Regions from separate parts of the Homo sapiens genome. Here region 2 is linked to region 1. The links come from fine-mapping of genetic effects on gene expression. A gene starts in region 1. The other region holds a variant in brackets. All regions are shown on one strand. Distances are from middle to middle.

Region 1 (5,382 bases):
TTTTTATTTTACAGTGAAAAGTATGGAAGCAAATCCTGATAATTTTGGCTTATTATCAAATATCATTTATTTTTTATTGCAGAGACCCAGCAGATGTAACTCTCATTGTAGCCATCCCAAAGAAAACCCTTCTTTGCCCTTTGCAGTGCCACTTATTTAGGTAACTGAAGTGTATTTCCAGTACAATTTGATTTTGAACTAAGATTTGATATAGAGTTGTAATTGCTTACATAACTCTTTGAAAATGTATCATCCCTGGGTTCTCAGGTGAAGGAGGCAATTCAAAAGTAAAAAAGAATATTCGAATACAATAAATACCCTCTGTTCTCACACAAATGCTGTTTCTTAGCTAACTTGCTTTGACAACCTACTGATGTAACTTCTTTATTAATGTGAAATATTTATATTTTGAAATAAAATTACTAGTGTTGAATGAATCATGTGGTAAACTTAATCTCCTGTGTGTTGAAAAACTTGATCTTTTGTGAAGCCAAAGTTTCATGAATCCATCCGTCTCTTAGGCCTTCTGTTATGCCATTTCCTCCGGCACCATTGTGTACACTGAATTCTTAGGAGATACTGTCAACTTCGTAAGGGAAGGTGTGTCCAGGAAGTGGACACTGGGCGCCTTAAAGAGGTCAAGGGCCCTCAGTGCACAGGGGAAGGTGGCCTTGTGATAGGTAAGGAAGTGGTGAGATGGTTGGCTGAGAAGAATTGGAAGAAAAAGTTGGATTGAGGACCTGTCCTTTTTGAATGAAGAAAAAGAAGCTGAAGCTTGGCTATCTTCAATACCAAAGACAGCTGTGCAGCACTGGTAGATTGATGAAGCTGAAGCTACAGGTTGAAGCACTGTGAAGCGCCTTTCAACGGTGCTTGGGAAAGAGCTTTCTTATGCCTCAGGTTGATGTACCCAGCTCATCAATCTGGTGTTATGGAAGAAGAAATGATCCAGGCCAAGGTGTCCGGGTGGACTGGCCAGCCTCAGATTCTTTTTTACTCTGACAGGTTCTCACTGGCAGATATGGTAGTTGACAAAACATTTTTTCATGCTTCTCAGTCTGTTGCTTAAGTCTGGAATTCCTTCACGGCGTGCATACTGCTGACAACCTCCTTTTGGCCTTGCTCCTGGAGACCTTAGAATAGGAGTCTTCAGCTCCCCGCCCCCATCGTGGGGCTCTGTGCGAGCTCAGAGTTGTGCTTACAGAACTGATTCTTACCCTTCCCCTCAAGTGAGTTGTCAGAAATACACACTTGGTGTTTTCATGCAATGAACAGTTATGAAGAAACTGCTCTGTGCCTGGCACTAGGAAAAAACTTCGAAAAATAGTTTTAAGAAGTAGTGTTGAACAGTAGATGAGGCTTTTTCATGTTTCTTTTAAATTTCTTTTGAATAAGTCTAAACAGTAGTGTGAAAGATATACTGACTTCCTGCCGAATACCCAGATACTCCATTAATGATTGCATTATCAAATGTTTCCCCTTCAATCCAGCTCAAAGTGTTTGTGAGAAATACATGGTGAAAGAATGAGCAGGGTGGAGTGGAAATTGGACCTTCCGGAGAAGCCCCAGGAAGACATTACCACTGGAATTCCCGTCCCAGGGGAAAGGCCCCTCCCAACAGACTTGATTCTGGTTTTGGTCTACCAGTTTCAACCCCAGCACAGCTTCCAGAAGTCTTTGCGGGAATTCAGAGCTGATTTAGGACGAGTCACCTATCGAGAGGACGGGAAGCTTTGCTGGGGACGCTTGTCTGTCCAAGTAAGAGGAGGCCATGTGGCTGTGTGACAGATGTGTTTTGTTTCTCCTCGCCACCCTGGCGAGAAGGTGCCTGGAACCCATGGAAGGGGTCTGAGAAGAGATAAGGGCGGGGCCATGTGGGGGCGGGACCCGGCTTAGGGGGTGGGGTTGCAGGGAGCCCACACCAGGCTGGACTGCGCGGGCGGGGCAGAGGCCGGGGGTGGGCGGGGACATACGGTGACGGGCGTCGGGGACGCAGGGTTGGCGGCGGAGCCCTGGGGGGGCGGGCCCCTGGGGGCGGGGTCTCGGTTGGCGCGAGTGTCCTGTCGCCGCCGCCTCGGGCGGGTGGGCTGACTGGCGGCAGGCTCGCCGCGGCGCGGAGTCCCGGCTGCGGGATAGACCGAGGGCCATGGCCGCCTCTCCCGGACCCGCCGGCGTTGGCGGCGCCGGAGCAGTCTACGGCTCCGGCTCTTCGGGCTTCGCCCTCGACTCGGGACTGGAGATCAAAACTCGCTCGGTGGAGCAGACGCTACTCCCGCTGGTTTCTCAGGTAAAGTGGCGCCTGGCGCGGCCCCTCTTCTCCTTCCCGCCGCGGCCCGCGATGGCGGCCGCCGCTCGCACGACCGGACGGGAGGCAGCCGCTGCCCCACTTTCCGCGCCGGCACTGCGGCGTTCTTGTCGGACCGCCTGTGTGGGGCTCCGGGACGGGCCTCGGCCCGGGCGGCGAGAGACTGGATAATCCAAACTCCGGCGGCAGGGTTGAGTGGACTCGGCAGCAGGGGAGGCTGCGGGGCGGGGGTGCCGGCCTGGGCCTTTGCCCCCAGTACCTGCCTCGGGTCTGCGGCTCCCGGGTGCCCCCGGCCGGGCGATGCCCCCTCCGCGGGGCGAGTGGTTGAGCCCAGCTCCCGAGGCAGAGAGGACCCCCGCGGGGCCCCTCGCTGGTACTTAGGGCCCTCCACGATAACCGACTTTGTCACCAGTTCGCAGCCTGGTCCCGAGCCCGGCTCCTCCGCCTGGGGTATTCCTCCCGGCCTCCCCGCCCAGCGTGCGCTCCCTGATCCTTTGTCCCTCCCCGCCGTAGGTCAGTTCGCTGGCCTCCCATTCATCCCGGCCACCCTACCCCTTCCCCTGAACCTGCTGCTGCTCACTTCTGCCCGCTTCTGTCCGGCCTCGTGGAAGAGTGACGTGGAGACTGTATGACAGTTAATCCAGATGCACACCGTTTTGCCAAGTCCCGTTTGGGATGTGTGCGTTACTGTATTTGCCAATCAGCTAACCGACGCCCTGAGTTTTAGGAAAGTTTTTGTTTCTCTGAGCTGGGTTATATGCAGCTTCAGGGCTAGAATTCCTCACTTAGGTCTGTGGTAAGATGCCAAGCACTGTGGGGAGTGAATTCTGTGCCTTCGGGAGCGCGTTGGCGATGTGTGACTCACATCTAGGTTGTAACCACTTCGTGACTCATACTAGGATTACCAAGATTTTAGAGGTAGAAGAAATCTTAAAGATTATCTGACTAAAAATTCTTTCTTTAGCATCCTTGACACCTGGCCACCAGTACCCTGCTTAAACATGTTCAGTGAAGGGGAGCCTGTAGCTGTTGCATAGAATTCTAAATGCTATTATCTCTTCTCCTGCCCAGCCCTGCGCATATTTGAAAACAGCAGTTACACATGTCCCTGGATTCCTGTTATGCTGGTTAAATAAACATCCCTATTTTCTTCACCTTCGCATGGCTAACGGAGCAGTGATGAATATATCTGACACTCTCCTTCCCTTTTCCTGTGTCTCATTGAGGCTCTGACCAGTGGGAAGGGGCACTGGGATCCCTCAGTAATGTCAGACCCTCCGCTCCTCGCCTATCTCCACTAGCACAACACAACCAAAACGAGAAACACTGGAGCAGTTTTAAGAGGCAGAGAGATAAGAGAGTGATGGAGTTCAAGTTGATAGTATTTTATCCATTTTTTAAATAACACCTATGTAATGCTTACTATGTGGTAGGCCAGGTTCTAAGCACTTTGTAAATATTAACTCATTAATTCTCATAACAATCATGTGAAGTTGGTATATATTCTCGTGGTATGGGAGAGGAAACTGAGGAATACTGAGGTTAAATAATTTGTTGTTAGGGCTTTCAATAAGTGCCAAACTGGGATTTGAATCCAGGTACCCTGGCTCCAGAAGGTTCTCTTTGCTACACTATGCTGTGTCCTCTCTAGAGATTAGAAGCAGTAATGAGATCTAGAGAAAAAGATGGTACATAGTGGAAAAACAAGCTAGAAAGTCATAATCTGGAGAAATGGCAACTTTTCACAGTATCCACTGCTAAAAATGTATCAGTCTTACAGCTCTGCATTGTGTAACTCTGGGGTAAAAGAAGCCAGAGAAGGGTAGGAGAGCAGAGGAAGAAAAGTATAAATCACTGCTGAGAGTTAGAGGTCAATGCCAAAGGGGAAGAATGCCTGCCTTTTTTTTTTTTTCTTTTTCCAGTTAAAGCCTTGTTCAGGGTCACAGCTGAGGTTTTGCATCCCACACATTGTGTATCTACAGCTACATCTCTACCACAACACCATAACTGATATTCCTCATAATTGACTGTCCTTAACAAGAAAAAGTTAAAATCAAGAAGTGTATTAAGCATGGCCAGAATACTCGGTTAACAAAGCAGGGAAGTACAATTTAGAATGATTTTAAAGTTTCAGTGTTAGGAGATTAAAACAGCAGTTCTCCAGAAAACTCATATGTCCACAAGTCTCATTTTCTGAGAATGCTGTATTATTACCCAACTCATGTTTCACCATCTCATCCACAAGGATATTTTAAGCATTTTAAGCAAGGATTTATTGTGTGCTTATTTGTTGCTGTTTTTTGAGGGGCTTATATTCTAGTTGGTAGATAGGTCATGTATAGAACAGCACATGCAAAGTGTCAAATGAACATCATCAATGGTACATACTCTAAAAGCTCAGAGAAGGCATGGATGAGTCAGCAGTGATGTCATGGAGGAGGCAGGGTTTTGAGGTAAACAAGTAGGACTGGCACTATACGGTTTAAAGTAGACAGTTTCTATTCTGGTATCATCTAGCTTCTTCTGACTCTCCAAGTGAAAAGTCCTGGGTTACTGGCCTTATTCTAAGAATGCAAGATTTTATCAATATTAGAAAAATGTGTATAGTTTTTTTTGCATTCACAGATTATAAAAGATGTATTTTCCTAACAATGATGCAGAAAAAGCATTCAACTAAATTCAGCTTCTAATAATGATAAGAAGCACTTAGGGAACTAGTGTTAGGAAAAAGTGTCCTTAACCTGATAGAGTATCTACAGAAAACTTTTACTTAACATCATAGCAACAGTCAAATTTAAAATAAACATTTCCTTTAAAGCCAGAAACCAGAGTGGGGTGCCTGCTATGCTTCTACTCAGCACTGCACTGGAAATTCTAGCCAGTGTAATATGACAAGGAGAAGAAATAAAAGGAATAAATATAGGAAAGGAAAAACCAAAAGTCTCAGTGTGATATAATAACCTATGCAGAAAACTCAAAACAGTCTACAAGTAAATTATAAAAATTAGGAGTGTTGGCAAGTTCACTGAGTGTAGGATACTAAAATCAATTGCATTTTTCTACATTGATAACAAACA
Region 2 (5,382 bases), 27 kb after region 1:
TAGTCAAAATATCCTGCAAAGAGCTATAGGTCAGGTGCATTCTCAGTTTTCTCAGCAAATATTCATCAGCTGCTTACTGTTAACCAAATACTACACTAGGTGTTGAGGATTCAACAGTAAATAAAAGTGACAAAAACCTCTGCACTCATGGAGCTTATGTTTTAGTAGGGGTGGGAGGAGATAGACAATAAAACAGAAACATGCATGGTGTGTTCAAAGAACACGAAGGCCAATGGATGGATCAAAGTGAGCAAACGGGAAGGGTAATAAGATGAAATCAGAGAGGTAGTGGGCAGGCCAAACTGTGTAAGGACTTTGGCTTTAAGTAAAATGGGGAGCCATTGGAGGTTTTGAGTAGGAGAATGACGTTTTCTGACTTACATTTTAACAGTATCACTCTAGCTGCCATGTTGAGAATAGTTTGCATGGAGACAAGGGCAGAGGCAGGGAGACCACTCAAGAGGCTATTACAGTAATCTATTGAGAGATGATGGTGACCTGGACCAAGGTGGTAGAAAGTGGCAGTGGTGAGGCTGGGCATGGTGGCTCATGCCTGTAATCCCAGCACTTTGGGAGGCTGAGGTGGGTGGATCACCTGAGGTCAGGAGTTTGAGACCAGCCTGGCCAACATGATGAAACCCCATCTCTTCTAAAAATACAGAAATTAGCTGAGTGTGGTGGCATGTGCCTGTAATCCCAGCTACTCAGGAGGCTGAGGCACAAGAATTACTTGAACCTGGGAAGCAGAGGCTGCAGTGAGCTGAGATCACGCCACTGCGCTCCAGCCTGGGCAAGGGAGGGAGACTGTCTCAAAAGGAAAAGAAAGTGGCAGTGGTGACTCCTATTCAACATAGTGTTGGAAGTTCTGGCCAGGGCAATTAGGCAGGAGAAGGAAATAAAGGGTGTTCAATTAGGAAAAGAGGAAGTCAAATTGTCCCTGTTTGCAGATGACATGATTGTATATCTAGAAAACCCCACTGTCTCAGCCCAAAATCTCCTTAAGCTGATAAGCAACTTCAGCAAAGCCTCAGGATACAAAATCAATGTGCAAAAATCACAAGCATTCTTATACACCAATAACAGACAAACAGAGAGCCAAATCATGAGTGAACTCCCATTCACAATTGCTTCAAAGAGAATAAAATACTTAGGAATCCAACTACAAGGGACGTGAAGGACCTCTTCAAGGAGAACTACAAACCACTGCTCAATGAAATAAAAGAGGATACAAACAAATGGAAGAACATTCCATGCTCATGGGTAGGAAGAATCAATATCTTGAAAATGGCCATACTGCCCAAGGTAATTTATAGATTCAATGCCATCCCCATCAAGCTACCAATGACTTTCTTCACAGAATTGGAAAAAACTACTTTAAAGTTCATATGGAACCAAAAAAGAGCCCGCATTGCCAAGTCAATCCTAAGCCAAAAGAACAAAGCTGGAGGCATCACAATACCTGACTTCAAACTATACTACAAGGCTACAGTAACCAAAACAGTATGGTACTGGTGCCAAAACAGAGATATAGATCAATGGAACAGAACAGAGCCCTCAGAAATAATGCTGCATATCTACAACTATCTGATCTTTGACAAACCTGAGAAAAACAAGCAATGGGGAAAGGATTCCCTATTTAATAAATGGTGCTGGGAAAACTGGCTAGCCATATGTAGAAAGCTGAAACTGGATCCCTTCCTTACACCTTATACAAAAATTAATTCAAGACGGATTAAAGACTTAAACGTTAGACCTAAAACCATAAAAACCCTAGAAGAAAACCTAGGCATTACCGTTCAGGACATAGGCATGGGCAAGGACTTCATGTCTAAAACACCAAAAGCAATGGCAACAAAAGCCAACATTGACAAATGGGATCTAATTAAACTAAAGAGCTTCTGCACAGCAAAAGAAACTACCATCACAGTGAACAGGCAACCTACAAATTGGGAGAAAATTTTCGCAACCTACTCATCTGACAAAGGGCTAATATACAGAATCTACAATGAACTCAAACAAATTTACAAGAAAAAAACAAACAACCCCATCAAAAAGTGGGCAAAGGATATGAACAGACACTTCTCAAAAGAAGACATTTATGCAGCCAAAAGACACATGAAAAAATGCTTATCATCACTGGCCATCAGAGAAATGCAAATCAAAACCACAATGAGATACCATCTCACACCAGTTAGAATGGCAATCATTAAAAAGTCAGGAAACAACAGGTGCTGGAGAGGATGTGGAGAAATAGGAGCACTTTTACACTGTTGGTGGGACTGTAAACTAGTTCAACCATTGTGGAAGTCAGTGTGGCGATTCCTCAGGGATCTAGAACTAGAAATACCATTTGACCCAGCCATCCCATTACTGGGTATATACCCAAACGACTATAAATCATGCTGCTGTAAAGACACATGCACACGTATGTTTATTGTGGCACTATTCACAATAGCAAAGACTTGGAACCAACCCAAATGTCCAACAATGATAGACTGGATTAAGAAAATGTGGCACATATACACCATGGAATACTATGCAGCCATAAAAAATGATGAGTTCATGTCCTTTGTAGGGACATGGATGAAATTGGAAATCATCATTCTCAGTAAACTATCGCAAGGACAAAAAACCAAACACTGCATGTTCTCACTCATAGATGGGAATTGAACAATGAGAACACATGGACACAGGAAGGGGAATATCACACTCTGGGGACTGTTGTGGGGTGCGGGGAG[G/T]GGGGAGGGATAGCATTAGGAGATATACCTAATGCTAAATGACGAGTTAATGGGTGCAGCACACCAGCATGGCACATGTATACATATGTAACTAACATGCACATTGTGCACATGTACCCTAAAACTTAAAGTATAATAATAATTAAAAAAAAAAAGAAAGTGGCAGTAGTGACAGCCTTACCCAAGTCTGGGAAAATACTTCTGGAGGTATTGGGATGCTTCGCTTAGTGCTTCATGGACCATCTGGGTTTTATGGACGCCTCTGTTTTGTCCTGTGGACCAGCCCTTTCCAGGTTGAGATGCCATCTTTTTCTGTCGCTTGTTATCACCATACAGCCTATGGTGTCATATGTGGCTTGTAAGTGTCAGGTATGGCATACACACTTGATGCATTGTCAGCTAGACCCACAGGTGGTTTTGAAAGGAGTCCTGTCCAAAATGTTAAAGACAAGAGGAATGGGTGGAAATTTTATAAGCAACCTCAGCCTTTATCTGATAGGTACCCATGATGGATGATACTCACATATAGGACACAGTTCTTTGGGATGTGATCTGCATTAGCTTTGGGGTTATATGCACTTTGTCGTACACTATTTGTAATTCCATCTCTATCTTTTATTAAATCTATATTGGGATGCAAGTGAGTGAGAGTGATATTATTGTGTAGGACTAACTTCTGAATCCATTCTAATTTATTCAAGCAAATTTACTTTCAAAGGCAAATCATTCTCAAACTTTAGGTTTTACTTATTTGTAAGAAGGGGCCTTTAACCTAACTTACAAATAAAAAAGGCTAACGTGACAGGGAAAAATTTTATGTAATTCAAATTTCAATGTCCATACATAAAGTTTTCTTGGAACACAGCTGTTCTTATTTATTTGTGTATTGTCTCTGTTTGCTTTCACACTACAATGACAGAATTGAGTAGCTGTGATGGAGACCATATAGCTCAGAAGGCCTCAAATGTTTATCTGGGCTTTAATTGAAAGTATTGCCCACCTCTGATTTAGATATAATAACCAAATTATTAACAGAGTATTTTGTTGTAGATTTGATCAGCAAACTTTGGCTACCTCATGTGAATAGCACACATTCTATTGAGGGCTCTGTGAGGAGAAGTCACCCCCCACCAAAACAAATTCAATACACAGTGCTTTCTTAGGTGTTCCTTTTCAATCTTGTTGGGGAAAATTATCTACCCAAGAAACATCTTAAGAATATTTCAGAGCAGCATATTGATTAAGATTAAGACAAACGAACCCCAATTTGAGATGCATAGCAGTTAGATGGGATTAATTAGACGAGGCTCCTTAAAGAATCGACTTTTAAGTGTCTGTTTTGAAGGAAATAATAGTCAATAGATGCTCAGTAGACAATTTACTTTTAATTAGGTAAGACATAGGCTGGGTGTTTCTGGTTAGGACGCAGTGTGTGCATTTGACGTGAGAATGTCAGGTATGACAGAACACCAGAATGTCAGCCATGTGCAGCCTCTACCTGTGTCTCAGTTTCTGGCTCTCTAGCCCTTACTAAGAGTAGCTTTTTCTTTCTACTCATATTGTGTTGATGTGTTTATATTGAAGCAGTGACAGTTTGTAAAACTTTATCCTGGTTTTTTTTTTTTTTTCACTTAACAATGTTAGTGAATTCTTGAGTATTAGTGTTGAATAAATACTTTTTTAAGAAATTGGGTTGTTCACATGGTCTTAGACTCCTCCGTGATTTTATTTCATATTTAGGATTTGAAAGATGAAAAGAAAAAGGCAAAAATGGCAGCAGCTAGGGCAGTTCTTGAAAAGTGTACAATGATGCTTCTCACAGCTTCAAAGGTAAGACAATTTTGGTTTTACTGTGTAATAAATTAATAATTAGAACACCCGACTAAATGCATTTAACTTACATAATTTACATTTTAAAAAAGATCAAAGTGATTACTTAGAACATAGGCCTGAATAGTTAAATCTCAGTTATTATTTATAAGAATGCTAACTTTCTTCCCCAACTCCAAATAATAACTAATTTATGAGTCAGCTTTGATTGAACAGCTCAGCAGAACATGGTGTATTAGGTGCTATGAATTAAGGCCTGTCACACATGGTAGCTGCCTGCAGGGTTTTTCCAGTCTCATTGAGGAGCCAGCACATATGCTCTAGAAAAAGCTAGACAAGTTAAGATCTGTTAAATACAGTGGAGTAAGAAGTCAGCACTTAGTTTATTCTGTAAATTCACCCTTTAATTCCTGTTTCCACTTTTAACAAAATTATCAATCAAGAGTATTTCCAAACAGCAGTTGGCCAGCAAATTGGTGCAATTCTAGAATGAATGAGTAAAATGTCTCTTTAGCAGTTTGTTTGGAATAACCTTTTCTTCTGAGAGTATTTACCCCATGCTAGAATCAGTGAAGCCACAAAAACAGACTTCGTGGAACCCACTCAGAAGACTCTATTTTGTCTAGGCCCTTGAGTTTTTCATTTACATCATTTTTTAAAAGTCAAGATGCATCCATGATCATATATCATCTCATTTTTCTTCATTCTTTTTCATTTCTGGCATGTGTAAGGCAACATTTAAAATAGTTTTAATCATGATGAAAAGAGATTTTTTCCTAAAAAATTTTTAAGTAAACTTACTGTTGAAGTATAA

What was found. PIP is the estimated chance that this variant, and not a neighbour inherited with it, causes the effect. A credible set is the group of variants that fine-mapping cannot tell apart.
Region 2: its variant is the best candidate, but not a certain one, in a credible set for the expression of CTNNAL1 in whole blood (TOPMed, PIP 0.63).

Annotation. Positions count from the first base shown.
Region 1 is chr9:109,010,207-109,015,588 of GRCh38, reverse strand. CTNNAL1 (catenin alpha like 1) reads left to right here and starts at 2,090. Exons shown (of 19, transcript NM_003798.4): 1 at 2,090-2,287. The coding sequence starts at 2,147. TMEM245 (transmembrane protein 245) reads left to right here. Exons shown (of 18, transcript NM_032012.4): 18 at 1-454. RefSeq lists a silencer at 1,848-2,737 and an enhancer at 2,399-2,902.
Region 2 is chr9:108,983,533-108,988,914 of GRCh38, reverse strand. It overlaps CTNNAL1 (catenin alpha like 1), which reads left to right. Exons shown (of 19, transcript NM_003798.4): 5 at 4,479-4,568. It overlaps LOC105376216 (a long non-coding RNA gene), which reads right to left and starts at 3,164. Exons shown (of 7, transcript XR_007061724.1): 1 at 2,920-3,164. The variant G/T (reference allele first, on the strand shown) is at 2,739.